4 linked regions of the Homo sapiens genome follow. The protein of the gene in region 4 purifies or fractionates together with the protein of the main gene of each other region. This does not show direct contact. Each region holds a gene or a part of one and is shown on either strand. Other genes may lie near its edges. The genes, in order: RIOX2, SYN2, LTF and POLL.

Evidence for each region.
Region 1: the proteins of POLL (region 4) and RIOX2 purify together in Homo sapiens (affinity purification with mass spectrometry; 3 studies listed by BioGRID and IntAct, with this or other methods). This does not show direct contact.
Region 2: the proteins of POLL (region 4) and SYN2 purify together in Homo sapiens (affinity purification with mass spectrometry; 3 studies listed by BioGRID and IntAct, with this or other methods). This does not show direct contact.
Region 3: the proteins of POLL (region 4) and LTF purify together in Homo sapiens (affinity purification with mass spectrometry; 3 studies listed by BioGRID and IntAct, with this or other methods). This does not show direct contact.

What each region holds. Positions count from the first base shown.
Region 1 is NC_000003.12:97,969,427-97,977,278, reverse strand, and holds the start of RIOX2 (ribosomal oxygenase 2), read left to right. Parts: upstream 1-4,847; 5' UTR 4,848-4,898; exon of another isoform or gene 4,899-5,689; intron 5,690-7,852. UniProt on the Homo sapiens protein: Oxygenase that can act as both a histone lysine demethylase and a ribosomal histidine hydroxylase. Is involved in the demethylation of trimethylated 'Lys-9' on histone H3 (H3K9me3), leading to an increase in ribosomal RNA expression.
Region 2 is NC_000003.12:11,999,763-12,007,394, forward strand, and holds the start of SYN2 (synapsin-2), read left to right. Parts: upstream 1-4,625; 5' UTR 4,626-4,789; coding exon 4,790-5,166; intron 5,167-7,632. UniProt on the Homo sapiens protein: Neuronal phosphoprotein that coats synaptic vesicles, binds to the cytoskeleton, and is believed to function in the regulation of neurotransmitter release. May play a role in noradrenaline secretion by sympathetic neurons.
Region 3 is NC_000003.12:46,461,895-46,469,635, reverse strand, and holds the start of LTF (lactotransferrin isoform 1 preproprotein), read left to right. Parts: upstream 1-4,730; 5' UTR 4,731-4,768; coding exon 4,769-4,811; intron 4,812-5,981; exon of another isoform or gene 5,982-6,192; intron 6,193-7,741. UniProt on the Homo sapiens protein: Transferrins are iron binding transport proteins which can bind two Fe(3+) ions in association with the binding of an anion, usually bicarbonate. Lactoferricin binds to the bacterial surface and is crucial for the bactericidal functions.
Region 4 is NC_000010.11:101,578,382-101,585,275, reverse strand, and holds the end of POLL (DNA polymerase lambda), read left to right. Parts: intron 1-356; coding exon 357-674; coding exon of another isoform or gene 675-840; exon of another isoform or gene 841-926; intron 927-1,594; coding exon 1,595-1,768; intron 1,769-2,384; coding exon 2,385-2,513; intron 2,514-4,859; coding exon 4,860-5,028; intron 5,029-5,437; coding exon of another isoform or gene 5,438-5,458; coding exon 5,459-5,823; 3' UTR 5,824-6,394; downstream 6,395-6,894.

The sequences.
Region 1 (7,852 bases), on a different chromosome or scaffold from region 4:
TAATTTTCTTTTTCAGTTATTTTCCTTTTCTATATTCAGAACCAGTTTATATGAGGTATATTTTTCTCTTCTTTGAAAGTTTTAAAAAACTTCATTAACAGACCCATCAGTACCTGACTAGTACCACCTTAGTTGGTCATTTTTAGGTCATTATGATATTTTAAAGGAAAATAAGTAAACTAATGTTGCATCATAATATTGGGGCTTCCTGACCCATATATACATTCTGTTAGTCTTGTAGGAAACATTTTCAATAGGAGCTTGTGTACCTTTTAACAAAGCAACCCAAAGAGTATGAGCAGAAAGCACCTCTGCAGGAGTACATATTTTTATAAGAATTGGGCAAGTCAATTTCAAGATTTATGATAACATGTTAAGTAAGAAAACATCTCTGTAAGGGAAAGTCATTGGAAAATCCTGAGGCATATTTTCACCTGCAAGTGCTGGGTTGCTGGAGAAAGGAGGTCTGCAGAATCATTTAAGAAAAGTCATGCAGCCTAACACCAACTTTCCTATAGGCACAGGCTGTAAAAGAAATTGGACTCTAAGCAAGAAAAGAAAATAGGAATGCTTACCCAATTCAATTTTGTAAACAGAGTAACTACTCTGTGAAGAACTCTGTTGCAGTTCTCAGAATTAAAGAAGCACATTTCTTGCTCCCAAGGAGTTTAAATCATAGTTTTATAAATATGCAAAATATAATTCCAAACGGTGATGGTATGCTTGTTATCAAGTTAAGTACGTTGAGTTCTATGAGCTGTATCGTAACTACTATAGTCTTGAAAGACCTCGGCCTGGGTCATTGTTAAACAAATTTGACTTTTCTGAAGGTACTAAGACACCAAGATTATCCCATGGTGATATGACATCAATTTGAAGGTACTCTGCTTGATGAATTGTGTAAATTAAGTGAAGTATGCATGTATAAAAGGCCCAACTGCATTTAATTCATTCCATGGAATCATGTTCAAGATGTCATATGGGATTTAACAGTAATGCCTCTCACACTCAATAGCATTTTACAGTTTTAAAACTCTTTTGCTTACTCCACCTCACCTGAAACTCACAGCATCTTTCCGAGTTAGGTGAAATTAACCACTTTTGGAGAAACATAAACAGAGGTCCAAAGAATATTACTTGATAGGCAGTATGGGTGCTATGGTCTGAATGTTTGTCCCCACCCTGGATTCATATACTGAAACAGAATCACCAATGTGATTGGAAGGTGGGGCCTTTGGGAGTAGATTATGTCACGCGGGTAAAGCCTTATAAATGGGATTATAAAGAGGACCCACAGAATTGCCTTCCCACTTCTACCACGTGAGGATGCAGCTAGAAGGTGTCCTCTGTGAACCAGAGAACAAGCCTCCAAAACTGTGAGAAGTCCATTTTTGTTGCTTATAAGCCACCCAGTCTTAGATATTTTCTTATAGCAGCCCAAATGAAAAAAATGGACTATCAAATGATGTATTTTTGAGCAAGTTCCTTAACCTTGATGTGTCTGTTTCCTTATATTAAAAAGTTAGCCCAATATAGTGGTATAAATATTAAAGTCATATACTAGAAAGACATGGTTTAGATATTTTCTGGACCAAAGTGAATACAAACACATAGGGGGCAGTACTCACATAGTTTAAAGCAATGTGTGTTTCCTGGAATCGTATGACACAGTAGCATTATAAAATAAAGCTTTACAACAAAAATACAAATATTAATCATTTTATAAGTTCTTCAATGTTTATAGACTGAAAGGTAATTCCAATCAGACTGATTCTTCTTCTAATGCCCTTTGAAAATTGGAGCACAGACCCTTAAGCCTATGGAATTTGAGTGCCAATAGGGATATCACAGTACATCTGGTGCAATCTTACTTTATAAATGAGGAAAGTGAATGTTAGCAAAGAGAGTTTTCCAAATTCATATACCTGGCCCCTCCAGAGTTAGATCTAATAACCATAAAAAGTACATTTACACACCACCATTTTTAGATTTTTTTGCACCCAGCATCATTGTGACTGGAGGTAGGAGTAGGACAGGGTTGCACTTTTGCAGCCTGATGCCCAGGCTGGACAGGTGCACAGCCACAATGAGGTGGCTAAAAACCAAAAGCTCTACAGGAAGAAGAGCCTAGGAGACCACAGAAGAGGAAGACAAACTTGGCTCTAAAAAGAGTCTTTTAATAAAGCAATCCAAACGGTGTGAACGTCAAGCACCTCTGCAGAAATGTAACTTATTTTACAAGGCTCATGGACAAGTCTGTTTCAGGGTTTATGGCCGAGACATGAAGGGAATTCTCTTCTTTCTCCTGTCTCCTTGGCATCTTGTTCCTCAGTTACAGAGGAGGAGCGCTAGTCTGTTGATTAGAAATCTGGAGGCTTCTAGACTTTTCCGGACAGATCTTGAGAGCTGCCATCTACAACATTGTTTTCATGAGAAAATTAATTACAGAAACAAAATAACTGACTTTTAAATGAACCTATGGTGGGGACTGGATAGCAGTCTGCATCTTGTCCTCTGGAAGAACTTTTCCAAAAAAAAAAAAAATACCAGAAACAATACATGTAGGAAGGCCATATATTCTAGAAGCCTCCCAGGCAAGGTTGCAGACCATTCTCCACTCCCATCCCATGCCACCCTTACTTCCTCACCTCCTCTTCCTCCTCTCAGGCAAGGTTGCAAGCCATTCTCCACTCCCATACCATCCCACCACACCCTTACTTCCTCCCCTACCTCCTTCCCTCCCTCCCCCTTCCTCCCTCCCTCCCCGCCCCTTCCTTCTTTCCTTCCTTTAGACGGAATTTCGCTCTTGTCACCCAAGCACAAACTAACTTTCCTTCTCTTTTTCTTTTTCTTTTCCGAAACAGAGTTTTGCTCTTGTTGCCCAAGCTGGAGTGCAGTGGTGCAATCTCAGCTCACTGCAACCCCGCCTCCCTGGTTCAACCAATTCTCCTGCCTCAGCCTCCTGAGTAGCTGGGATTACAGGCAGGCACCACCATGCTTGAGTAATTTTTTTGTATTTTTGTTAGAGACGGGGGTTTCACCATGTTGGCCAGGGTGGTCTTGAACTCCTGACCTCGGGTGATCCACCGGCGTCAGCCTCCCAAAGTCCTGGGATTATAGGCGTGAGCTACCGCACCTGGCCCCTTCTCCTTTTCTTCACAGGAATGATGGGCACTGTTTAGGTCTGAAAATGGAACTATCATGACTTTTTTGCTTGCTATGCTAAGAAATCGGAATTATAATGAAAAAAATCAGAGAGAACATACTGATATACTAATTTTGCATTAGAGGAACTCCTACACAAGATGTATGATTTCCCCCTGCAAAGCTGACTTCCATATGTACTTTTGTTCTGTTAGACATCCTGCGGCCATTTTATATGCTGAGAAAATGGTATTTTGTGTTGACATTATAACTTTTTTCTACAACCGTACTGCTTTTCCAAGTGGTGGACGTGTGAGAATTTACCTTTATCTGAATCCCGGGAACAGCAATATTATTCTATATTATCTTGAGTAGATGTCTTGCAGTCAAAATAAAGAGCGAAGTACATTACCAATATCATATCAACTAGAGATTTTTGCTGTTGACTATTCTTTTTTACCCTGTAAGGGCTAAATTTGATGTTACCCTCGAGTTTTTCCAACTGGAACCTGCCAGGAAACTTACTAGTTATACGAGTATTAGTAAAACGTGAAAAAGACCAACAGTTGACTGACTGGTTTGGCTCTAATCTTGTTTCTGCATCTTCCTAGCTGTGTGATCTTGTGCAAGTTAGTTAACCTCTCCTGACTCAGTTTCCTCAACTGTAAAATGGAGGTAATTGCAAGGTTGTAGTGAGGATGAAGTGAGGAGTATTTGAAACACCTAGCGTGGTGCCTTATAGCCAGGAAGAACTCAATTCAAGACTTGCTATTATTGTTAGTTTTAGACAAATACTAGACAAGGGTGTACTTTGTTCCCATTTGTTCATGTGCCACTTGATCCTTAGAAGCAGCCACTGGTCTCAGTCACCTTGACGGAACGAAATGTCGACTTCCTCTGGGTCCTCTGGCTGTCTACAGAGCAAAGAAAGGCACAGGCCCGCCACTGATTTCCCTGCTCCCTCATTTGTGCCTCCTGACTGGAACCAAATGTTCCAAAGCAGGGAGTGTTAGGCTGAAAGGACTCAGATAACTGCATTTCTTCTGTTTCTATAGCCATAGTCGCAACGAATTTCCAGTATCTTTTAAAACTAGGATTGACTCTCTCTCCCGGAGCGAGATGATATAAATGACACTCGGCTTGTACAAATCAGCATTGTGTAGCCACACAGCCCATAAGAAAGCCATGGGAGAACCCGGACCACCAACTCCCTAAACTTGCACCGCTGGTATTCCTCTTCAGGCCTGCTTCTCTATTCATAAAAGGAACGGAGTTGCACCAAAACGCTCTCTCAAATCCTCTCCTGCCGCCCCAAGTTAAAAGAAAAAAAAGGAGAGCCGGGTGGGTGGCTCACACCTATAATCCAGCACTTTGGGAGGCCGAGGCAGGAGGATCGCTTGAGCCCGGGAGGTAAAGGTTGCAGTGAGCCAAGATCGCTACCACTGCACTCCAGCCTGGGCGAGAGTGAGACCTTGTCTCACATACCATAAAAAAAAAAAAAAAAAAAAAAAAAAAAAAAAAAAGAGGAAAAAAAAGGCCATTTATTTCCTTCCATATGGACTAAAGAAACGCCCGGGCGTGAACGCGGAACACCGCCGGGTAGCCAGGCCTCCGGGCTGCCACCACTTGCGGGCCGGCGTGGCGGGGCGGGGCGGGGGCTGGAGCACGGCCCGGAGCGTGCCCACGCTGCCCCGCCTCCAGCCGCTGCGCCGCAACGCAGTGGGCTCGCGGCCGCGAGCAACAGGCCGTGCCGGGTGAGTGGGGCGCTCTCGTGGGCATCCCAGCGCCGGGGCAGGCCGGGTAGTGCCCGATCCCGCGGGGCGCGCGCTGCTGCTTTAGGCACCCGGGCTCGGGTGCGGGTCTGGGAGACCTGTCGGTCGGCGAGAAGCCTCGGTGGCCGGCGCTGTGGTTGCGGGACCTGGGACGCGCTCCCAGGCGTCCCACCTCCCCGGAGACTGGGGCAGGGTGGGTGGGGCCCGGATCTAGGGGTAGGGTCGCGGAAGCCTTGGTTACAGAGAGTCGCACACGTGGCCTGCTAATGGTCGCGACACCGGTGACGAGCGCACGGAAAGTTTGGAGGCTTAGCAAGGAGGGTGGTGCCGGCCTCCGCCCGGTGGTGGCAGAACTGCCTGTGCGAGCACGGCTTCCACGTGGGCTGCGCCGCCGGGCGTCATGTCGGGCCTAAGAGACACGCTCTACAGCTGTGAAATCTGAAGTTCAGGTGTGTGGGGAGAAGGGCAGCTGCATTACATCATATGCTTCCAATTCATTTACCAGCAAATAATTCCGCAACGATTGGCCGACAGCTGGGTTGTCCAACAGGTTACTGAGACCAGGTTATTCACTGTTTTCAGGAAGGATAGACTGGGAGGAAGAGGATCTGATTTCGCCACTCATTAGCTGTAAATCTGGTGCCTCGGGTTTCATGTCACTGGGCTCATCTTTGAGCAGAGGAACCTGATTTACTCAGCTTCTTCTGCTGGTACTGGTTTTTGCCTCCTGGACATCAAGCTTTGTAACCTCATGGTCACGAAAATACATTGAGGTATAGTCCGTTTCCTCTCTAAAATCAGACTAAAAAGATAACTGCTGATCACTCCTTTAGGTCAATAGGAGAACCAGTTTTCCCTCTGGATTGATTAACATATCTCTGAGCCAAAAAGAAATGTTTTAGATCAGTCTGGGCAACCTTGTTACAAGCAATATATAATTTCTGACAGCCGTGTGTTTAACTGAGCTGCGTTTGACTGTTGTCCTCCATTAGTGGACCTAAAATTCATCTAGAGAGCGTATTACGTTAATGCAGATTATGGGCCTCAGCCATCAGAAGTGGCAATCCAGTGGGCTTGATGAGGGCCCAGAAATTTGCATGCTAACAACCTTGCTGGTAACTCTGAACTACATTCTGTAAAACTGCCCAGGGGATGTAGAAATTCATACTTCCCTCCCCGATTTAGTAATAACTACTGATGTCTAAAGTGCCTTTTAGCTTTTACGATACTCTTGAATCCTGAAGTGACAGCTGCAATCAGAAAAATAATCCCCTCTGCACAGGCCATCTGTTTTTTCCGTAACTGTTTTGTGTAAGGCCTTTGTGGTTTGTCTCCAAAATTGTATACAGACAAAAGATGAAAATGTGAAAAATTCAGCAGACATTTCTTGAGGACCTCCTATGTACCACACCGTGCTTGTTTCCGGGGATATACAAATCCTTTCCTTCAAGAGCTTCCTCACGTCTTCATGTCCTCAAATATTATAGAAAAGGAGGTTAGGGTACCTTTAAAATATAGTGACTGTCTGTCTGTTGCCTATAGTATGGTTGTCAACATTGATTTTCTTATAGGGTTTATCTGTGGGGTAGTCACCAAAGTATGAACTGTAAATCTTTTAGTCTTTTTACATTTAATGCTTATAGTCAACTCAAATGGAAAACAATTGCTCTTCAAAAACTTTTCTGTGATTTTACAGAAATATTTACTCCTATTGGGGTGGTCTCTAAGGCTTATGGGCAAGGTTGTGTTGGCTGTACTATTCTAGACAAAGCATTGTCTTCTTTAATTACTATAGTATTGGATTCTAAGATATGTGTTTTACTTCTTGCTGTTTCCGAAATTATGATATGTACCTTAAGACTTTTGTATGTTTAATGTGGTAGGATGCTTCATCTATTCTCCCCTCTGCTCTAGAAAGCTGTTAAGAGGAATGGTTGTCTTACAGTATGAGTAGTGTGAGAATCAGAGAAATAATGTATTTGCCCAGAAACCTCTAAGCTTAGGCTCCAATTAACTGAGCCTCAAATCATTTCAACATGAACACAGAGAAACAAATGATGTAACTTTTGGCAGTATGGGTAGTGAAATTTATATTCTAAGGAAAGCATTTGTTATACAGTATTGGGGTTTGTTAGTGATTGTAGATGGGAAAGATTCTTTTAAGTGATTTTATTTTGGCTTAAGTGTTTTGCATTCTTTGATTAGCCACACTTTCTGGTGAATGTGCTTATACTGTATTCATATATTATGCTTAAAGAAAAGCTTTTCGTTTGCATCTTCCTCCTGCTCTCTCCCCTTAAATGAATTTTAAACTGACCAATTGTGAGAGATAAGAGATGTGTGGCTGAATATAAAATGACTCTATAGGGTGCCTTTAGTAATACAAACCTAATAAACCAATCTAAGTTTTTAAAAATTAAACGTGAGCAATGTGCTGTGGTCCCCAAGGCCATCTTTAGTTCAGCAATTTGCTAGGAGGACTCGGCTGATTTATTACAGGGAAAAGATATCAAGCACAGTCAGCAAAGGGAAGAGGCACATGGGTGAAGTTCTGGGGATACCAAGTGCAAGGCTCCAAGGGTCTTCGAGCGGTCACACTGGCTGTGCTCAGTTGCTCCAGCAACTAGTTGTGTCAACACTTGTGAAATGTTGCCAACCTGCGAAGCTTGTTAGAGACTCAGTGCCCAGGGCTTTTACTGGGGGCTTTTCACTTAGGCCACCCCTGCCTGGCACATACCAACGTTTCCAGACTCCCAGAGGAAAGCAGGTGTTGGTATAAACTGTAATGATTGTACATTTTAGGCATGGTGAGCCACTCCTATCAGTTAATGGTGGTGGAAACTCTCCCAAAATCTTAAGTTCTCAGACATCGGCCACAAGCTGCACTTTCAAAGGATAGCAGTCAGGCCTGCTATGGAACGTCTTCTGCATAAGCA
Region 2 (7,632 bases), on a different chromosome or scaffold from region 4:
AGAAGGTATCCACAGGCTGCTAGCAGCATTGTCAAGAAGGACCATCTAAATGGAGATGACAAACTCTCATCATTGGGGTCTCCAAAATGACAGGTAACAAGATGGTGTAGAAGGCAATAATGATGCCTCTTCTGGTACAGCTTTGTCCCTTTCAAAGTGCTTTCCAGATTATTTTATGAGAGGCCCAAGTCAGGCAGACACTTTCATTCTCCATTTGCATATGAGGCCCAGAGACCAGAGCAACTTGTGTAAAATTGCAATGCCAACTAGTGATGGAGCAGGACTAGGATGTACAATTTCTGAGTTCCAGATTCTTTCTACTTTCCTCTACAGCAGGCGAGTCTAAATGGGGTCCCTGACCCTGGGTAGTGAGCAGGAGCCAAGGATGTCATGGTTTCCTTTCTTATTTGGGAGGAAACCCAGACAACAAGCATTTTGCCAAGTGGCTCCATGCACCAGGCTTTCCTTTAAGCTAGGTTTCTGAGCTCTGCCCTACAGAGACAAAATTGCTCCTCAGTCATGTACCCAGCCTCTCTCTCTGTGAGCTATCTCAGCTGCACTGTTGCTCAAGGGAAGAGAGAAATCAGGCGATAAAGCATTTAAATTGGTGCTTGATTTTAGCAGGATTCTTTCATCTGCAGTTGCCAGATGCTTAATTGTGTTCAAAATTCAGTGGGAAGATAAAGATTACAAAGGAAGGATCTCAAAGAGTCCTGGGCTTCTAGAACTGGAAGAGACCTCTGAGATTCTCACAGTGAGAATCTCAGTGGCTAAGTCAGACACTGAGGGATGAAGAAAGGTGGGAGAGACCCCCTACACCGATTGCTGTGGGAGAAATGCCTTCTACCTGGAGATGACGGGAAAATGCTGGTTGGTCTTAAGAGGGAGATAGGTAGAAAATTTCATATTTTATAGACATTCCTGAGTCCAAATCCAGTTATCCTTTCATATTCCAGGTAAAAGGTAGGCGACAGAGTAATAGTGCTATGTTCTACCTGTATCGGGAACCCAGATCCACAGGTAAGGATAAGGGAAATATTGTCATTACAGCCCATTTATAATAAGACACGATGCACTGCATGTTTCTGCAGCATGCAAAAACACTTCTTGGCAAGGACTCACTGCAAGCCGGAAGATACTGATTTAAGCAGATGTGATTTACAGTTGTACTAACTAATGAAAACTTCTGATCATACACAACTGATCAATGACCACTTATGCCCAATTATATGAAAACAGTCTGTTCCTCCACAAGAATAATATTCTTATTAAAACCTACCAGAAAACAATGTAATAAATTAATGGAATATTTGATAAACATTTTTAAATGATCTTGTAGGCCTCCATGGTTTCTATGAAGGGCTCTAAAATAACATTTTAGAGAACATTCTGATCTAGCTCCCACAACTGGGTCACTTACTATGTGTTAGAGGCTTTGTAGATCATTCTGAGAAAATCAGAAGACAGAATCCCTCACCTTGAGGGGCTTGCAATCTAAAAAGAGAAGCTGGACAGACACTAGCAACATAAACATATGCATAAGTACAGCCTCTCAGAGCCACCCCTACAAACACTAGAATGCATATGCCAGTGCCATGAAAAGCTCAAGAAAGACAGTGAGAAACAACACAGACAAGGTTTTTGCCTTCAAGGAGGAGATTCAAGAAGTTCAAAGGGATAGCCTTTGCTCTGGCTATCCTTTTTACCTTGGCTGCCTTCTCCATCCACTCTTTCCTGCCTGTCAGAATTCCGCCCATTTTATAAGGCCTGAGCCTTTCTTTCTCTGTGAAAATTCCTGTCCCTGAGATCTCTTCTTCCTCTGGCTCCTTTAACACTCACTGCCTGCTCTACTTTCAGGTCACTCACAGGCTGCTCTGCTATTGCTAGTTATGTGTTCACATGTTTATGAGCTGTCTTCTTAAGAACTTGGGTTTCATTCATCCCTGAATCTCCTTTACCCTCCTGTCCCTAGCATAATGGCTTGCATGTATTAGGCATGAAAACACGTCTGTTAATTGGTTGATTTTAAAAATATATGCATATACTATAAGCTTAACGGTTGGGGAAATTACTTACTGAAATATTATTTTAAAAAACCTATCACCCCCAAAATTGAAGTGACACAGTGTCTGAAATCCCTTCATTAGAGATACATGCCTTTGATGGCCGGACGTGGTGGCTCATGCCTGTAATCCCAGCACTTCGGGAGGCTGAGGCGGGCAGATCACCTGAGGTCGGGAGTTTGAGACCAGCCTGACCAACATGGAGAAACCCCATCTCTACTAAAAATACAAAATTAGCTGGGCATGGTGGTGCATGCATGTAATCCCAGCTACTCAGGAGGCTGAGGCAGGAGAAATGCTTGAACCCGGGAGGCGGAGGCTGTGGTGAGCTGAGATCGTGCCATTGCACTCCAGCCTGGGCAATAAGAGCGAAACTCCATCTCAAAAAAAAAATTTTTTTTTAAGAAGGGCAATAATTAAGTTTATTTAATTATGTTATTAGTGACTTATCAGTTTTATTCTCCAATAAACACAAAAACCGAGTTGGGTAAGATTACAGTTCAATTCTCAAACAACTGAGTCCTTATTACATGCCAGGTCCTGTGTTTGGTGTGAAGCCCAAAGATAACTAAGACATAATCCTGTCCTAGAAAAGCTTACATTCTAGTCACCAGAATATTGTATGATAGTTTCTTTGGGGTCTATGACAAAGCCAAGCACAGGATATGGAACACTTAGCCCGCCCTGGAGGATTGACGAAAGGCTTCCTGGAGGAACCATCAACTTACATACCTTCTCCATGCCTTCTCTGGCTGCCTGCCTGCCTGCCTTCTTCACTTTTCTACTGGTAAACATAGCTGCCTCAAGATCCACCTCAAATGTCACCTCCTCTGAGAGGCCTTCCTAAGTCTCAGAGGCAGAATGAGTCCCTCCCTCCTTAGGCCTCCTAACCCTCTTTGCCCAACTGTATGATAGCATTTCTCACATCTTATGTGGTTCCTGTGTCTATCCTCCCTCCATCCCCCAGCCCACATAGATCATGAACTTGCAATAGACAAGAGCCACTTCCCATTCATTTCAGCCTTTCCAGCTCTTACCACTGTGCCAAGCATGTAGTAGATAGGAAGACCACTGTGTTATTATAGTTGACTGGAGACTTCTCTGATAGCACCGGCTCAGAGCTGGATTGTGTATCTCTAGGCCCTGAGTTGAGTGCCAGCTGGGATACAGGAAGCAAGAACTGCCCACCAACATTAGTGACAAGCCACTCCCTGACTCCATTCAGCCCAGTACATACTTACTGAGAACCAATTGAAAAAAGAATTCAGGCATCACTACTGGAATACCTACTGCTGTGTACCAGATGCTTTACATACATGATCTCATTTACTCCATGTAACAACTCTGGAAAGGGTTACTTATTCCTTTTTATCAGCTAAGGAGAGAGGCTCACAGGGGTTATTGATCCAGGGTCACATATCACCCGGGGTAGTCTGCTGTAAAGCCTATCTGCTGTGTCCTGCTCCATTACAACACAAGGGAAAGTATATCTAATGAGAGATGAAAACTAAAGGTCCAAGAGTCACGCAAGATTTAGAGAGTGCACATGGGAAGGTGGCCATCAGAAATGTCTTCACAGAGGTCAAGGCAACGAATAAAATGGAAAAAACAAGTAGAAAGATCTTGAAGAGATGTCCTTCTTGGTATAGCACTGGATGCATCAATGCATGCTAGGAAAGAAACACGGTGGGGTTGGGGGATCCTTAGATATCCCTCTTGGGGTGGAGACCATGTCTCCAGTCTTCTCTTGGTTTTCTCTCACTGGTCAGTGAGGAGGGGGAGAGAAGTACATACTGTTGTTGTCCCTAGAAGTGCAGGAGTGAAAACACACCCCACCCCTCCTTCCATGACAGAGTAGAGAGGATCTGTTTCTCCCCTTTCCTCTCCCTCGCCTTGGAGTAAGGAGGCTGCCTTCCTCCCTAGAAGAGGTATTTCTTTTTTGTCTCACCATAGGGTGTGTGTGTGTGTGTGTGTGTGTGTGTGTGTGTGTGTGCGCGCGCGCGCGCGCGTGTGTGTGTGTGTGTGTTAGTAACAGCGGATTATTCCCTTCCCCCTCTTCTGGGGGCTGGGGAGATGACATCTTTCTCCCCAGCGTTGGGAAAGGAGGTGGTTCTTTTCCTCCTCACTACAGGGTGTTCGTGCTTGTGTGCGTGTGTGCGCGCGTGATTGGGATGACTCCTTTCGTTCTCACCTCCGCATAGGGAGGCTGACACCTCTTATCCTTCCAAAAGGAGTGGGGTCGGTTTCCTTCGCCTCCATTTCAGCTGGGACACGGCTCTTTTTCTCTCCAACCAAAAAGATGGTGGGGCCTCTGGTTCCTTTTCCTTCCCCTGGGGAGAAGGCCTGGCTCCCACGCCCTCCCCGCATAGTCACGCTCAGGTTGCTGGAGGCCTGGGTCGCCCCCTCCTGCAAGCCCCGAGAGTCGCCAGACGCGCGGCTAGGTGCCCTCCGTGAGCGGGGCGGGGCCGCCTCTGCGGCGCGGGGCGGGGGCTATCTCTGGCCCCGCCCCTGCCCCGCCCGCTCCCTCTCCGCGAGCCTCGCGCCGCGCGGGTTGCCTGGCCCAGACCGCCGCTGCTGTCTGCGGGGTCTGGTGCCGGGGCCTGAGTCTCTGCTGGCTAAGCCGCCGCCTCAGCCGCCTCAGTCGCCTCAATCTCGCCTTCCGCCCTCGCTCTCCCTCCGCGCCACCAGACCCCGTAGCCCCGCGCGCCCCCAGCCCTTTAAGCCAGATGATGAACTTCCTGCGGCGCCGGCTGTCGGACAGCAGCTTCATCGCCAACCTGCCCAACGGCTACATGACCGACCTGCAGCGGCCCGAGCCCCAGCAGCCGCCGCCGCCGCCGCCCCCCGGTCCGGGCGCCGCCTCGGCCTCGGCGGCGCCCCCGACCGCCTCGCCGGGCCCGGAGCGGAGGCCGCCGCCCGCCTCGGCGCCCGCGCCGCAGCCCGCGCCGACGCCGTCGGTGGGCAGCAGCTTCTTCAGCTCGCTGTCCCAAGCCGTGAAGCAGACGGCCGCCTCGGCTGGCCTGGTGGACGCGCCCGCTCCCGCGCCCGCAGCCGCCAGGAAGGCCAAGGTGCTGCTGGTGGTCGACGAGCCGCACGCCGACTGGTAGGTGCCGGGCGCCGCCGCCCTCGGGGGTCGGGGTCCGCCGGCAGCCGCAGGCCAGGAGAGGACGGTCCCAGGTCGCCGAGGAAACGTTTCAGACCAATAAAAAGGAGGGTCCCCGAGGTCCCGCTGGGAGGAGGTGCGGGCTGAGCGCGCGCGCGTTTGCGGGGTGAGGGAGGGCATCCATCAGCCCGGAAAGGCGAACCCAAAGCTAAAATACCCCTCAATTGCCCCAGGTCCCCCAGGTCCCATACAAGAAGGAGCTACTTTATGCAACAGGAAAGGCCCTTAGGAAATAGTTTTTTTGGGGGTAGAGGAGGGGACACACTTGTTAGCTTAGACACATAAAATCTGAAGTGAAATAGTCCCAGGAGGCCGAAGGAACATTTAGGGCCAGTAAAAAAGGTTTAACTTCATGAAGCACGGAGTGAATTTGGAATGGAAATTGGTATTTTGGAGGGAGAAGGTGGTGGTGGGTTTTTTTTAACCAGGACCCATGAAGGCTGATATCAAGTATTGACATCAGGTTGATGAAATCACACATGTAGTGGCCCAGGTGTACACGGGCTTGTTCCCCGGAGCATGGCTGAAGTCTCTTTATGAATAATAAAATTGTTGTATTTTGTGCAGCAGGGAGGGGACGTGTGGAATTTTTTTTTTTTTTTTTTGATTGCTTGTTTTTCTGAAATGTGCGTGGTGGGGGGCGGGGCGTGGAAGTGAATGGTAGCTTTTTCTAGCTGAAAGATGAAGACCTTGGTAAAATATACTGGATCATTAAAGGGGTACAAATAAAAGGAGACCTGCCTTAATGTAGTAGATGGGAAACTTCAATAATTTTTTTTTTCTTCTAAAGAGATAGGTAGCATGTTTCCAACTTAGAATGGTGAAGGCTGCTGCTTGGTAAAAGTACGAATGAGGTCCACTGAAGACAAATTAGTTAAAAGCGGCTCTATTTTATAGTTAACCTAGGGAATGGTGGGATGGTGAAATTGATAGGTGAAGGGCTTGGAGAAATGAAGAGGCCGAGAATCTGGGGGTGCCTTTTCTCCAGGAATGTGAGCAAGGGTTTTGTTTTTTTTTTTTTCTCATAGGGGTTGAGGTTGGAGACTGGACCTGAGTGTTCTTCCCAGGAGGGGTGCACAGAGAGACCACAGAGCTATTTCTCTCCATTTCCTCTTTTGGCTGCTTCACTGCTTTCTCTCTCTAGCATTCTCTCTTTGGGAGACCCAGAGGGAGGGAGTGCTGGCGTGTGGGTGTGGTGGAAATGAGATGCAGATGTGGAGATGCCCTCCTGCTGGCTGCTAATGTCACCATTCTGAATAGTCCTTTGGGTGACTTATGTGGTTGGCCTTTTCAAGAGAGTAGAGTAGAAAATCCGAAAGGACTTTTGCCAGGAAATGACAAAGGCACATGGAAGAGGGTAATGGGGAAAGTGTAATGCATATGATAGTGCCACTGGCAGCCCTCCTTAGAATTACTCTGACTCAGTTCATATCAACAAGTGCTTATTACGGAGGAAGGGAAGGTAACCAAGCTAGTAAAGGTGCTCAGTCAGAGCATCCATTATATGCCAAATGCTGTACTCTCAGCATGATATCTCATTGCATTTTCTTCACAAAACTGAGGCTTAGGAAAGGTAAGTAATATGTTTACAATCATGTAGCCAGCAAGTGGTAGAAGCAGGATTTGAACTTAGGCCTGTTTGACTCCACTGCTTTCATTCCACTGTGTTATATTGCCTCACTATTATTATTAGCAATATTAATAACAAGCTCCCTCTAGGCAGTGTGGGGGCCTTTTAAGAGAACTCACTCAAATTGGGACACAAAGTGGATACATGAAACAGTTAAAAAGAAATCTAGAATTATTGGTTGAGACTAGTGTTTCAGGCAGTCAACAAATGGAGTGGTTAGTGAGAGCCAGAGTTATTGGAGAAAGCTTCACAAAAGATGAATCTTGAAGAAAGGCCAAGAAAAGGAAGAGGAGAAATGAGAATGACATTCGTGCTTTATTTTTCTGTGCAGGAATTTGACCCTTCTGTACCTTGTCCTGATTTCTTATCCTATTAAATGCACTTGTTTTGAGTCTTATTGCCAGTTAGGTATCTATAGATAGGTACTGATACTTATTTGTATGGGTATGATGAAGCTGCTGCAGATTTCTGTTTAGTTATAAATGCTTCTGTAGCTTAAGATTTGAAACTCTCTTTGGATAGTATTCTCTAGGAAGCCTATTTGGCATAAACTAGAGAATTTGCCTTGCCCTGGAGACTAGAAGCCTCTGATGGAAGTCATAGAAGCCACTTTCCCGTGGGCTGACTCCCAACTGTTTTCCTATTTTCTCTGAAGTAATAACATTGATTTATTAAAACTCATAAGCCCAGTTCAAGTCTAGTTCTTGACAACAGTTTTTTGCTCCTGTGTTTCTGTGCTTAATAGCAGTTCCCAGAATTGCTCTTCTAATATGGGC
Region 3 (7,741 bases), on a different chromosome or scaffold from region 4:
CTCTTTCTCCTTCTCCCCCATTCTCTGCCCCTCTCTTCAGGGTGATCAGCAAATAAATGATCAATACTAAGACACCAAGGCCCTAAGAAGTCACTGGATGGGGTCCCGGGTGGATTTCTAGCTCTACTGTCCACTGGCTGTGAGACCATGAACAGGGTGCATTGCCCAAGTCCACTCAGCTGGAAACAGGTATAACAAGCACCTTTTGGTATTTCCAGAGCATCAGAAGCCAGCTGATGTGTGGAAGGGGCCAGGCAGGGCCTGCTTCACGGAAGGTTCAATTCTTGCCAGGTTCCCTTTGTGCTGAGATCCCTGGGCCTCAGTCCCTGCACCCTGAGCTCTCAGAGGGTTCTTGGCTCATGGAGGAGAAAGCCCCTGGCTGTGGGCCTAATGGGAGACTCAGGGATAGCAGTTGTATCTCACTCACTGTGTGACCTCAGGCGACACTCAGAGTACCTGTTTTTAGAATGGAAAGAGTGACTGTCTTAACTCACAGAGTCGTTGTTAAAGCCATGTGAAACAAAGTCACTGACAGCACTATTTGGATTTTAAAATGTCATCCAAATATTAAAGATTATTATCCTATTTCTCTGCTAGGGATGGCACAGCCACCCATACACAAACACACCCACACTAATGTGGACACTGCATGCCACCAATGATGAACGTAGGCAGCTGTGTGCTGGTCAACTGGCCCTCTGGGGGTGTGGAAGGAGGAAGCCCTGATTTAGAGCATTTGCTAATTCCATGGCATAAATACATCGACTATGCCTGATATCAAGCTGCCATCAGTTAACCCACCCCAAATCCCTAAATGTTTAACAAGTGGTTCTCAAGTCAGCAATCTCTCACCACTGGCAGGGAAAAGATACAGGGCCCAAGGTCTCCCATCTGCCAAGCTATTGTCCAAGCGTGAGTTGATGTCTCAGGAAGGCCTTTTCTGCCTTATCCCACCTGAAGCCAGTTCTACTCAGATCTCACACTTCCTTCCCAACACTCTTCTTGGGGTTTGAAGCTAGAGGCTCATAGAGGGCAGGGTGTGAGGTTTACTGGCTTGCAGGGAGGACTTAGGTTGGCCAGAGACTGTTGCCTGCTAATGGGGCTTGGGCCTGCAATTCTGTAAAGGCTCCCTGGAGGAGTTTTGAGGGTGGGGGCAGAGCAGGGTTAGGGGGAAGGGAGTCAGCCTCACACATCTGCCTGTTGAACACTAGCTCTTGCCACTGCATGGCAGTTTCCACAGCAGCTACCTTCTTTGTGCTCCTTAAACTCATGTTACTGTCTCAGCATTTGGAAACCTGCATTCTGCTTCCCTGCAGGCTCTTTGAGATCTGACCCAACTCCTGGCACGTTGGAGATGTCCCATAGACCAGTGTTGAATGAATGGGTAAGTTAATGAGTCCATGTACACAGGCTTTGGCATGGCCTGGCTTAGGCAGCCCTGACCCTCACTATCCTTCAGACCCAACACATTACAAACAGGATCCTTTGTCCCTTTCTTAGCCTGTTCCTCTTCCTCATTTATTCATTCCTTCAACCGATATTGATCATCAAGTGCCTATAACATGCACAGAGCTAACTGGCCAAAGGATTTGAGGGTGCCTCTGCGGCTCTTTGGTGGGTTTGGTGGAAAGCGGTAGGAAATATGAGAAAAGGTTCAGGGTTGGAGGGACTGGGTGAGTTGCATTTTCGATGCATTAAATTTAGGCGCCTTCAGGACCTGCAAGAGTACCTTTCCAGAGGCAGATGAACACATGATGTGGAGCTCAGGATAGAGGAGGAGGATTTTGTTAATCCTTCTTCCAACAAGAGTTCCAAGCCATGGCTGGGTGCAATGGTTTATGCCTGTAATTCCAGCACTTTGGGAGGCCAAGGTGGGAGGATCGCTTGGGCCCAGGAGGTCAAGGCTGCAGTGAGCTGTGATTGCACCACCACTGCATACCAGCCTAGGTGACAGAGGGAGACCCTGTCGGTAAAAAAAAAAAAAAAAAAAAGAAAAGAAAAGAAAAGAAAAAAAGAATTCCTGGCCAGAAAGCCAGAGGGAACTTTTGTTGTCCCTAGTGCTCAGGTAATTGGTCACTGGGTTCATGCTCCCAAGCCTTTACTTGTTTGGTTGTTTACTTTACAGAATGCTCTACCTGTAGAAATCCCACCCTTCCTTCAGGTACCCAGGCTAAATCTTCCTGGAGTTCTTCTGGAGCCCTCATGATGGGTGCTGGTCATTCCTCCTCTGGGCCCTCACACTCACTTGCTTTATGCTGCTTGGCCTCTTCTTAGGGAGCCTCTGTGATAGAAGTGCATTCCTGTGACTGTCCCTCCCCCATAGTGCTGTGAGCTCCTGAGGGCAAGGACAGACCCCTCTTCTCTGTCTCTCATGGCATCTACCAGTTCTGGCATGAATGAATGAATGAATGAATGAATGAATGCTGTTAATAGATCAGTGAAACTTCATTGTTTTTTGGGGCAGACTCATCCCCTACATCAGCCTCCTCTGCAAATGGCCTTGAGGGGCTGCTCTGCCTGTGTCCAGATGCTCACATCCCTGCCCTGGGGCTGGGCTGTTCCAACAGGCACAGCAGGAAAACAGTCTGCCCTGTTGCCTACCCATGCTGCCTTCAGGGCACTCCTTAAGCTGAGCCTCTTGGTAGTGGCCCCAGGTTCTCTGTGTTCTTGCCAACACTGTAACATACTTAAGAGGGCCCAGGGCCCTCTGACCTCCCAGTCATCCTTTTTTAAAATTTGGACTCAGAAAAAGAGACACGGGTTATGATGTTTCTTAATTCTTTTATAATGATGAAAAGGCAAAGTCTTGTTGCCAATTTAGGTACAAAGATGCTTCAGCACTCCTGGGAATTAGTCAATTTTGTATTTCTTCAGTATTTTTGAAAGAACTTATTGCAATTATTGATGATGGCAACTTTAAATGGTGCAATATCATGTTTCCAAACAATGAGAGACCTTGGATCTGTCACCCCAAAACCCAGCTGGTGATTCTAGCACCAAATCTCAGACCCCAGTCTCATGGCAGGCAAGCATGATCCCTGATTAGCCTCCACCCTGTGCCTTGGCAGGATCATGCCCAGAAATGGAGGGGCTCCCCAGCCTCCTTAATGGCCTCTCCACCTTGGGCTGAGCCTGCTTCTCCATGGCTAGGTGCCCACTGCATGCTCACTCTTGGCAGAGCTGGCTCCCTGGGGCATTGCCTATCTGCTCCAGGAAATGCTTTTTAGTACCAAGTAGTCTAAGCAGAGTCAAGACCAGCTTTTCAGAATAAGCAGATTTCAGAGTCACATATTGGTCAGACTCACCTGCCAAGAAAGGTGTTCAGGTGACCTATTATTTCCCTCACTGTTAGTACCTTTTTTCTTCACTTAGTTACCCTTTTTTTTTTTGGTGGGGGTTACAGAGTCTTACTCTATTGCCCAGGCTGCAGTGCAGTGACATGATCATGGCTCACTGCCACCTTCATCTCCCAGGCTCAAATGGTCCTCCCACTTTAGCCTCCCAAGTAGCTGGGACCATAGGCATACACCACCATGCTGGGCTAATTTTTGTATTTTTTGTAGAGATGGGGGTTTCCCTATGTTGCCCAGGCTAGTCTTGAACTCCTGGGCTCAAGCGATCCTCCCATCTTGGCCTCCCAAAGTGCTGGGATTACAGGCATGAGCCACTGTGCCCTGCCTAGTTACTCTTGGGCTAAGTTCACATCCATACACACAGGATATTCTTTCTGAGGCCCCCAATGTGTCCCACAGGCACCATGCTGTATGTGACACTCCCCTAGAGATGGATGTTTAGTTTGCTTCCAACTGATTAATGGCATGCAGTGGTGCCTGGAAACATTTGTACCTGGGGTGCTGTGTGTCATGGGAATGTATTTACGAGATGTATTCTTAGAAGCAGTATTCTAGCTTTTGAATTTTAAAATCTGACATTTATGGCGATTGTTAAAATGAGGTTACCATTTCCTACTGAATACTATCAACACCAAAAAAGAAGAAGGAGGAGATGGAGAAAAAAAAGACAAAAAAAAAAAAAAGTGGTAGGGCATCTTAGCCATAGGGCATCTTTCTCATTGGCAAATAAGAACATGGAACCAGCCTTGGGTGGTGGCCATTCCCCTCTGAGGTCCCTGTCTGTTTTCTGGGAGCTGTATTGTGGGTCTCAGCAGGGCAGGGAGATACCCCATGGGCAGCTTGCCTGAGACTCTGGGCAGCCTCTCTTTTCTCTGTCAGCTGTCCCTAGGCTGCTGCTGGGGGTGGTCGGGTCATCTTTTCAACTCTCAGCTCACTGCTGAGCCAAGGTGAAAGCAAATCCACCTGCCCTAACTGGCTCCTAGGCACCTTCAAGGTCATCTGCTGAAGAAGATAGCAGTCTCACAGGTCAAGGCGATCTTCAAGTAAAGACCCTCTGCTCTGTGTCCTGCCCTCTAGAAGGCACTGAGACCAGAGCTGGGACAGGGCTCAGGGGGCTGCGACTCCTAGGGGCTTGCAGACTAGTGGGAGAGAAAGAACATCGCAGCAGCCAGGCAGAACCAGGACAGGTGAGGTGCAGGCTGGCTTTCCTCTCGCAGCGCGGTGTGGAGTCCTGTCCTGCCTCAGGGCTTTTCGGAGCCTGGATCCTCAAGGAACAAGTAGACCTGGCCGCGGGGAGTGGGGAGGGAAGGGGTGTCTATTGGGCAACAGGGCGGGGCAAAGCCCTGAATAAAGGGGCGCAGGGCAGGCGCAAGTGGCAGAGCCTTCGTTTGCCAAGTCGCCTCCAGACCGCAGACATGAAACTTGTCTTCCTCGTCCTGCTGTTCCTCGGGGCCCTCGGTGAGTGCAGGTGCCTGGGGGCGCGAGCCGCCTGATGGGCGTCTCCTGCGCCCTGTCTGCTAGGCGCTTTGGTCCCTGTGTCCGGTTGGCTGGGCGCGGGGTCTCTGCGCCCCGCGGTCCCAGCGCCTACAGCCGGGAGGCGGCCCGGACGCGGGGCCAGTCTCTTTCCCACATGGGGAGGAACAGGAGCTGGGCTCCTCAAGCCGGATCGGGGCACGCCTAGCTCTGCTCAGAGCTTCTCAAAAGGCCTCCCAGGCCCCTGTCCCTTTGTGTCCCGCCTAAGGATTTGGTCCCCATTGTATTGTGACATGCGTTTTACCTGGGAGGAAAGTGAGGCTCAGAGAGGGTGAGCGACTAGCTCAAGGACCCTAGTCCAGATCCTAGCTCCTGCGAGGACTGTGAGACCCCAGCAAGACCGAGCCTTTATGAGACTTAGTTTCTTCACTTAAAGAAACGGCCTAACCATGGGTCCACAGGGTTGTGAGGAGGAGATGGGGCATTCGCACACCTTCCGTGGCAGAGGGTTGTGGAGGGGTGCGGTGCTCCTGATGGAACCCTGTGTCAGAGGGTTTGAGAGGGAAATGTCAGCCAAACAGAAGGAAGGAGTAGAAGGAAGGAAACAATTGTCAGTTCCATAACCAAAGTAATTTCTCGGGTGCTCAGAGGGCACTCCCCAGCGCTGCACATTAGTGACCTAAATGCGTGAGTGCGGAGCTCCCTGCAGCACCGGGAGGGGAAGGTCCCAGGCCGCAGCAGAAAGGGCTGTGATGGGCATCAGGACCTAGGCAGTGGGAGGGGCACAGTGAAAGCCCAGGTGTCACACCTCCCCAGCCCAGTGCAGCCTCCACTTGTCTTACGGCATCTACCTAAGGCTGGGAGCTTCCTGGATGGAAGAGGTGGCGGTGGATAGAGAGCAGCAGTGGGAGCCCAAACCCATCCTTGTCCCTGCCCTTCTGGTCTCCTGCTCCAAATTCCTTCCCATGGGTGTTGGTCATCCTTCTCTTCTCTAAGACAGATTGGGACTGGCCAGGACCCGACTGTTCTCTTCCCCTCAAGCTCCCTGGCGAGTGGCCTGTTGCACAGGGTTAGGGCCACCTGGGAGGGGCAGGAGAGGAAGGAAGCCTTGCCTTCCTGGAAGTGGTCATGGGCTGTGGTCCAGGATTCTGGCTCAGAGTTGCACCACTGGGTTTTATATTCACTTGGATCTTTAGTTGTTTTGGCGCCTACTGAGGTCTGAAGTTTGAATCCTGCAGTCAATTGGGATGGTGGCTTGTACCCCAAAGTGCCATTGCAACCCTTGTCCTTCCTGAGGAAAGGGTGGCAGTTGCCCTGTGGAATTCCTGCCCTGCTCCCCGTGGGTGTCCAGGCTGACAGAAGTTGGGTGAGTGGGGCCAGCTGGATCTAAGCCGTGTGAGCATTGGGTGGAGGAGTCTGTCTGCTTAGCCCTGGAGCCATGGGCTGGGAGGCACTCATGAGGTTTCCCATCAGTCTGAGCAGTCTGCTTGGGCCCTATCATGAGCTGTGTGGGTAGGTGGGGAGAGTAACTCCTGTCCTGGCCCCTGCCTTGGAGGCCAGCGCACTGCATGTCTGCCCAGAATGTGTGTTTTGGCCAGTGTCCAGCCAGGTCCAGTGGGCAGCATCTGAGTGCCTGACACTGAATACAAGTGTGGGGTTGAAGATTTTGGAGGGGCCAGACCTAGACCTGCTTCAGGGGGTCACATAGCTCCAGAGCTGGGAGGTAAGAGCTTGTGGGTCACACAGCTCCAGAGCTGGGAGGTAAGAGCGTGGAGACTTCACCTGGTGTTTGGGGGGCTGGGGACTGGGAATCCTGGAAGGGAGCTCAGCGGTCCTTTAGTCACTCTGGTTCAGCTCCTCTTAGGGGAAGAAATGAACTCTGCCCACAGGTTCCCGTCATTGCTCAGCCCCCACCTCCGGCTTGAGGCATGGTCTTCCATTTTACTCTCTCCCTTCACCCCCAGAACCCACCCATTACCAAGCTGATTTCTGATACCAGCTCCCTGCCCCCTTCTCTGTTCTCAGTGCTGTCCCCTCTCTCCACTCAGACTAGCCCTTCCCTGGTGCCTTCGTTGGCCACAGCTTCTCTGCCTGTTCCCAGGTCTCAGTTCACTCTGCCCCTGCCCTAGGGAGAGTCTCCCGTGAGTCACAGCTTCACTGCATCCTGAATAAGACCTCCCTGGATCAGCATTGGAGACTTTCCAGGATCTGACCCAGACCCTTTTCTAGCCCCATCTCCAACCTGTCTCTAACTTTGCCAACCTAAATAGGCAGGCTAGCCCAGTGGTAAGAGTAGGGGAGTTTAGTGCCTGACTGCTTAGGTTGGAGTCCTAGATCCAACACTTACTTATTAGCTATGGGAACTTCCACAAGCCACATAACTAGTTAAAGCCATAGCTCCCTCCCCTGGAGAATGGAGAGGTTGGCAGAATTCACAATACAGAGGAGCTGTGGCAACTAATGGAGACACGTATGTCTCCATTAGCTGGTATTTGTTTGGTATTTGTTCTCTTTTAACACATCCACCATTCTTAGCTTCCTCTTTTTGGATTTTTGCCTCTCCAGTGAGAAGTGAAATCTGGTCCTGTCCGCTTACACATTCCTTGCGTGACACACAGTGCTGTTTGTACAGCAGGCATCCAGTTAATGCTCACTGGGTCACAAATGGCTGCATCTGATTGGGTTAATTCTCAGTGTGGGATAGTTCTATAAAGGCTTCCAAGGCAAGATTATATTCCCTGGGATTTCCCCGGGATGAGGGTGGATGAAGGGGGAGTATGGCAGCTAGGTGTCCCCAAACCTCTGCAGACTCAGCCAGGGAGCTACAGGCCTCTTGCCCACCCAAGGGCCATGGGTGGCTCTCGCCATAAGGGGATGGCTCAGAAACAGGAGACAGCAGAGGCTGAACATTCTAC
Region 4 (6,894 bases):
AAGCAGATCACAGAAATGGGGTGGGCCTGGTGGCTGTTCAGAAAGTCCCAGGCCCCTGAGAGAGGAGGGCTCTATTGTGAAGCCATTTAGCTCTTCCCAACACTCATCACTGCTGCATTTATCTAGGCCATATCTAACACATACCACTGGGGATCCTAGGGCTAGGCACTGCGTGGAGCCAAAGGGAACGTGGCCTCACACCCAAGGAGATCCAAGTCTGATGCAGAAGGCCCCGCCTCATTCTTAGGTCTGACTAGAAGACCCTCCCCCCGCACAAAGAAGATGACCCCCACCTTTAAGGATCCCTTCTCTTGGAGAACAAGAATTTATTGTTTTCTTTTCTTCTCTATCCCAAGCCCATCTCTGATGATGAAGCCAGTGATGGGGAAGAAACCCAGGTTAGTGCAGCTGATCTGGAAGCCCTCATCAGTGGCCACTACCCCACCTCCCTTGAGGGAGATTGTGAGCCTAGCCCAGCCCCTGCTGTCCTGGATAAGTGGGTCTGTGCACAGCCCTCAAGCCAGAAGGCGACCAATCACAACCTCCATATCACAGAGAAGCTGGAAGTTCTGGCCAAAGCCTACAGTGTTCAGGGAGACAAGTGGAGGGCCCTGGGCTATGCCAAGGCCATCAATGCCCTCAAGAGCTTCCATAAGCCTGTCACCTCGTACCAGGTACCCAGGGGCTAGAGTGGGAGGAGGGGTCTTTACTGGCCAGTGGTTAGTAACCCCAGTGGGGTTCAGGTACAGTGGTGAAGATTTTATGGGGTCTAGGACTTGCACAAAAGAAAAAAAAGGAAAATTGATGAAAGCAGATTGGCAAAATCTTGATAGTTGTTGAAGCTGGGAGATGTACGATACTTGGGGGTTATATGGATCTCTCTACTTTTGAATTTTTTAACATAATTAAAAGTTTTTTATTTTTAATTTTGTTTATTTATTTATTTATTCATTTATTTAGCAGAGATGGTGTTTTGCCGTGTTACCCAGGCTGGTCTTGAACTCCTGGGCTCAAGCAATCTACCCTCGGCTCAGCCCTGCAAAGTGCTGGGATTACAGCCATGAGCCCTTGTGTCCCGCCTAAAAAGTTGTTTAAAAGAAGTTTGGACTCTGAAGCCTAACAGACCAGGGTTTGAACTCTGGTTCCTGTCATTCACTAACTGTGTGACTCCAGACAAGTTACTTAAACTCTCAAAGCATCAGTTTTCTCATTAGTAAAAAGGGGCTACTATTAAATGAAATGGTCCCTGTAGCACAGGACCTGACATAGAGTAAGCCCTCAGTAAATGTTAGCTCTTGCTGTTGGAATGATGATGATGGTGGTGGTGGTGGTGGTGACTAATATCATCATTATTTTCTACTTCTTACTGCTGGTCTCCATCCTTCTGGGAACCAAAAGACAAATTACCCAGCCCTCATTCTATCCAAAATTCTCATCTTCAACTACACCCAAGCTTTACACAGCCACACAGTTGCCAAGCAGCCAGGCTGGCTTTTATGTCAGCATCTGCTAGAGGAGTCAGCTTCCTTTCCACTGGCTCTACCTCTTCCATCTCCTCACTCTTCTTTCTTGCCTCTGCCTCCTCCTCCTCTAGGAGGCCTGCAGTATCCCTGGGATTGGGAAGCGGATGGCTGAGAAAATCATAGAGATCCTGGAGAGCGGGCATTTGCGGAAGCTGGACCATATCAGTGAGAGCGTGCCTGTCTTGGAGCTCTTCTCCAACATCTGGGGAGCTGGGACCAAGACTGCCCAGATGTGGTACCAACAGGTCACACCCTGGCTCAGCCCCTACTTCAGTTTTGCTGTGTCTCAGAGTTCCTGCCCCAGATGTGTGCTGTGCTCTGCCCCAGATCCCTATGCTGTGCTCTGATGGGAATGCACCCACAGTATAGGGAGACCATTTTTCAAGCGGACCAGGACTCATATAGACCCCTCAGCTCCCAGAACAGCCTTGTTGCTTGGTATCCTTAAGAAGGAGTAGACAGGGACAAGAAGTATGTTTCTCAGTCTCCCCAGACCAGCAAGGGCCTTCCTGAGGAGGCCAGGCCTTGACACTGCGTGTCTAGAGCAGTGGTTCCCAATCCTGGCTCTGCCCACAATCACCAGGGCAGCTTGGTAAGGATGAAGATGACAAGGTCCATCCTCAGACTGATGGAATCATGAACGAGCATCTTAGGATAGTGGCAGGGCTGGATGATGGCATGTTTCCCATGCTCCCTGCCTTTCCCAAGTCCTGCTGAGTACAGACCCAACTGCCCCTAGGTTGGTCCTGCCTCTAGCCTTCCCTAGAGTCTGGGGCGATGGAAGCCTTGTGTGTGTGCTCACTCATGCCTCTTCATTGGTCCTGGATCCTTACAGCTTCCCATCTGGCTGCTTTTTTCCAGGGCTTCCGAAGTCTGGAAGACATCCGCAGCCAGGCCTCCCTGACAACCCAGCAGGCCATCGGCCTGAAGCATTACAGTGACTTCCTGGAACGTATGCCCAGGGAGGAGGCTACAGAGATTGAGCAGACAGTAAGCAGGTGTCCCAGAGCAGTGAGGACAGCCAGGTCCTGCTGTAAGGTCTTGGGTCAAAGCCAAGAACCCCCAACTCCTCAGCTGGGGAGGACAGCAGGCAGAGGAAACTGTGGATCACCAGAGGTTGAGCACAGAGCAAGTTAAGACTGAAGCTCCAGGCCCAGAGGTGGGGGTGGGGAGCTTTGGGAGGAAAGAGCTGTAACACCAGCCCTCTAGATTCTGGTTCTCAGTAGTCAGGCCTATTAGGATTGGATTCAATTCTAGACTGATTGGTGTTAGGATTGGGTTAATGTTAGGGTTAGATTACAGGTGAATTATATCTGTACTGAGGTTAGGGTGGGTCAGGGCAGAGGGTTTTAATATTTTATTTTATCTTTTTTTTTTATTTCACCAACTTCTTTGAGAACCTGATGAAAACTGTGGACTGTTTTCTCCCCAAAATGCACAAATGTGCAAAGGTTTATGTCTTTTTCCAGATGTATGGACCTTCTAAAGCCCACGCAAGGCTGGCTCAGGATTTGGGGTAGAGTTGGTGTAAAAGCACAGTGTCAGTAGGATTTGGTTTGGGGCTGGAAGAAAGCTCCATCAAGATGGAGTTAAGACCAGGCACAGTGGCTTATGCCTTTAATCCCAGCACATTGGGAGAACAGGGTGGACAGATCATCTGAGCTCAGGAGCTCGAGACCAGCCTGGCCAACGTGGTGAAACCCTGTCTCTATAAAACATACAAAAATTTCCAGCCTGGCAAACATGGCGAAACCCCGTCTCTACTAAAAATACAAAAAAGTTAGGCGGGTGCCGTGGCTCATGCCTATAATCCCAGTTTCTTGGGAGGCTGAGGTGGGAGATTTGCTTGAACCTGGGAGGCGGAGGTTGCAGCGAGCCAAGATTGTGCCACTGCACTCTAGCCTGGGCAACAGAGCAAGACTCTGTCTGAAAAAAAAAAAAAGATTGAGTTAAAGTTAGGCTTTAATTAGGCGTAGGATTTTCTTAATGTTGGTTGCTTTTAAGTTAAGATTTGTAGTTGTCCAAGAAATAAGATTTGGGTTTGGTTTAGAGTTGGGTTAGCGATTAGGTTCATGTAAAAGCTAGATTAGAGAGACACTGGACTGCATTTAGGGCTAGATGTATCATTTGTTCAATGGGCATTAGGATTAGGAGCTGCTTGTAATAGGCAAGTTTTGCTCACTTTGGTCAGGGATTCTGATAGAGTGGGATCCCATGGAGACTGGCCTAGTTTGATTGAAATCAGCCCCCAGCTCCATTCCAGGCCACAAGGCTATGAGGCCGGTATGAGATGGATGGACAGGCCTCTTTGTCTGCCCATCACCAGGCCTTGGTGCTAGTGATGACACCGTCACTCAGCCATGGTGTCCGGGCATGGAGAATGCCTCAGTCAGTACCCAGCCCATTGGAACAAAAGAGGCTTCCCACCTGGCCTCCTGTGCCCCCATTTAAGGGCTCCAGCCATAGGAGTTTTGATGGGATTACTCACGTGGACCTCCTCCTTCCATTCTCTTGGGAGGCTCAAGAAGGGAGTAAGGGGATTAGCGGAGCCCTCCTGTCAGGATACTTGAGGTGTCCGGGGCCCCAGAATTTTCAGTGTCCTGGGGTGGAGGCAGGAGGCCATCTGCATATGAAAGAACCTCAGTGTCTCAGGGGTGGAGGCTAATGGGTTTATTTTTCCTCAGAGGGACAATCCTTCAGCTGGCAGTTGCTGTCTCAGCTCCCTCCCCACCAAGAAAGGATGTGGGTGTTGGCTCAGAACTGCCCCCTCTTTGCTTTCTTTCCTCTCCTTTCCCACAGGTGCAGCTGTATTTCTGTGCTCCACTTTCTCCTGGGCCTGGGCCTGGCGCATGCTGCCAGCCACCTGCTCAGTCCTCAAACCCCAGCTCACATATTCCAAACCTTTAGCTCCAAATCAGTAGATATCTGGGGCTGCCTAGACCTGGCTGAGGGCTTTCAGCACCTGGCCCCTTGTCCTAAGTGGAGTTTCACAGACCTGGGCACGTGGGCTGGGGCAGGGGCAGAGAGAGTCTGTGTCTCCCTACTCTTAAAGAGCTCCACAGGGCAAGCTCAGTGCCCACTCTCAGAAGCAGAGCCGGCACCTTCTCCCGTCTCTCCTCAGGCTTGCCTCCTGCACAGTGAGCTTTTTCTTCTCTCCTGTCCTAGCGAAGGGAAAGAACAGCAGCTCCTCAGGGTGGATTCCCCTGGGCTTGCAGCAGGCATCTGGAATGGGCATAAGCTGAGGGTGTGGGCCCGAGTCTGGGAAGGCCCTTGTACTGCTGTGGGAGAGGAGCTCCCCACGCACAGCCCCTCACCTGTCACCGCTCTCTTTCCCAGGTCCAGAAAGCAGCCCAGGCCTTTAACTCTGGGCTGCTGTGTGTGGCATGTGGTTCATACCGACGGGGAAAGGCGACCTGTGGTGATGTCGACGTGCTCATCACTCACCCAGATGGCCGGTCCCACCGGGGTATCTTCAGCCGCCTCCTTGACAGTCTTCGGCAGGAAGGTATAAGCTCCATCTCTGGGTGAGCAGGTTGACAGAGGGCAGCACAGGTCTGGGGGCCCCCTCAGAGGGAGAACCTCAGAAGTTCCAGTCCTGAGGCAGGAAGCAGGGGAACAGTGCTTTGCCAGCATCCCATCTCTCTATCGGGGCCGGAATCCTCTCCAGGGAGAGATGGAACAGCCCCGCCACACCTATGTGGAGGTGCTCAGTGAACCCTGCAGGCCAAGTATCTCATCTGATCTTTCTGTGACACTATGGGGGAGATGGGAATTACTATCCATGTTTTACAGAAAAGGAGAAGGGCCCAGAGAGGGTAGTGTCACCCAGCTAATACCTGGGCAAGCCCCAGCTTAGACATCAGGAGAGACCTGGGAGGATGGGACAGCCCAGGCCTGGTTCCCTGCCCTCCCAGCAGTCCCCTCTGTTGGGCCAGGGTTCCTCACAGATGACTTGGTGAGCCAAGAGGAGAATGGTCAGCAACAGAAGTACTTGGGGGTGTGCCGGCTCCCAGGGCCAGGGCGGCGGCACCGGCGCCTGGACATCATCGTGGTGCCCTATAGCGAGTTTGCCTGTGCCCTGCTCTACTTCACCGGCTCTGCACACTTCAACCGCTCCATGCGAGCCCTGGCCAAAACCAAGGGCATGAGTCTGTCAGAACATGCCCTCAGCACTGCTGTGGTCCGGAACACCCATGGCTGCAAGGTGGGGCCTGGCCGAGTGCTGCCCACTCCCACTGAGAAGGATGTCTTCAGGCTCTTAGGCCTCCCCTACCGAGAACCTGCTGAGCGGGACTGGTGACCCATGGCTGGGGGTGCTGAGGAGAGCCGAGTTGGACTGGCTACCCCTCCTGGCCACCCAGTACTCCCTCCAGCCTCAGCTGGCTGAACCTCGCCGCTCCAACCACCAGCTTCCTCAGCGAGCAGGGCCCAGGGCTCTGGGCCTGAAGCAAGAGCCAGCCCGGCTCCCAGTGTCTGCCCGGCTCCCAGTGTCTGCCCAGCCCTCTCCCAGACAGGAGCAGGCTGCCACCCCTTCTACCTCACCACTGCCCCTCGAAGAATTTTGCAAATGGCCCCTTGCCCCATTTTAAGCAGGAGCAGGTGGCTGGTTTGAAGCCCCAGGTATCCCCCTTCCCTGCTATGGGAAAGGCCAAGCTGCTGGGTGGGGACAGAAGCTGCAGGGGAGAGGGAAGCAGCCGTGCTGTCAACATCATCCGGCACCCTCTGGGGTAGGAGAACAGCCATTCCACATGTGTTCCCTCTATCCGTCCTGCTTCCTGGGCAGCTGGTGGTGCTGGGAATGGGGTGCCCCAGCCTTGGTGAGGACAGTGTTGGGAGGCCCAGGGGCCCAGTAAAGTGCATTTGACATTGAACCTGCCTGGTGTCTGAGCTGCTGCAGCCTCTGGCTACCTTGTTCCACCCAGGCAGGGACGACAGAGATGGGAACTGAAAAGAGGAGCCCAGAAAGGCTGTGTTAACTGCCCTCCAGACAGGACTGGCCTGAGTCAGCTCCTAAACTCACAGCAAGGACAGCAGTGGCTGTGACCAGGGAGAATGTTGGAGCCAGGCACCCAGAGCTCCTATCTAGTCATCAGCATCTTCTGCAGGCCCTACCTTAGACCAGGCTATCAGGGGACATGAGCAAAAGTGACAAGACTCAGGAAACCATTAGGAACAACTAAATGGTGACCGTGTACACAGGGATGGGCGGCCAGGGAAGGCTTCCCGGAGGAGGAGAGAGGCAGACTGGCAGGGAAATTGCCTCTGAGAGGAGTCAGCAGGCTCTGTTTGGGGACAATTAAGGAACAGCTTTAGAGAGGACACTGTGTGCTGGGAGTCAGGAGCAGGCTGGGCTGGCAGAGGACTGGAAGCA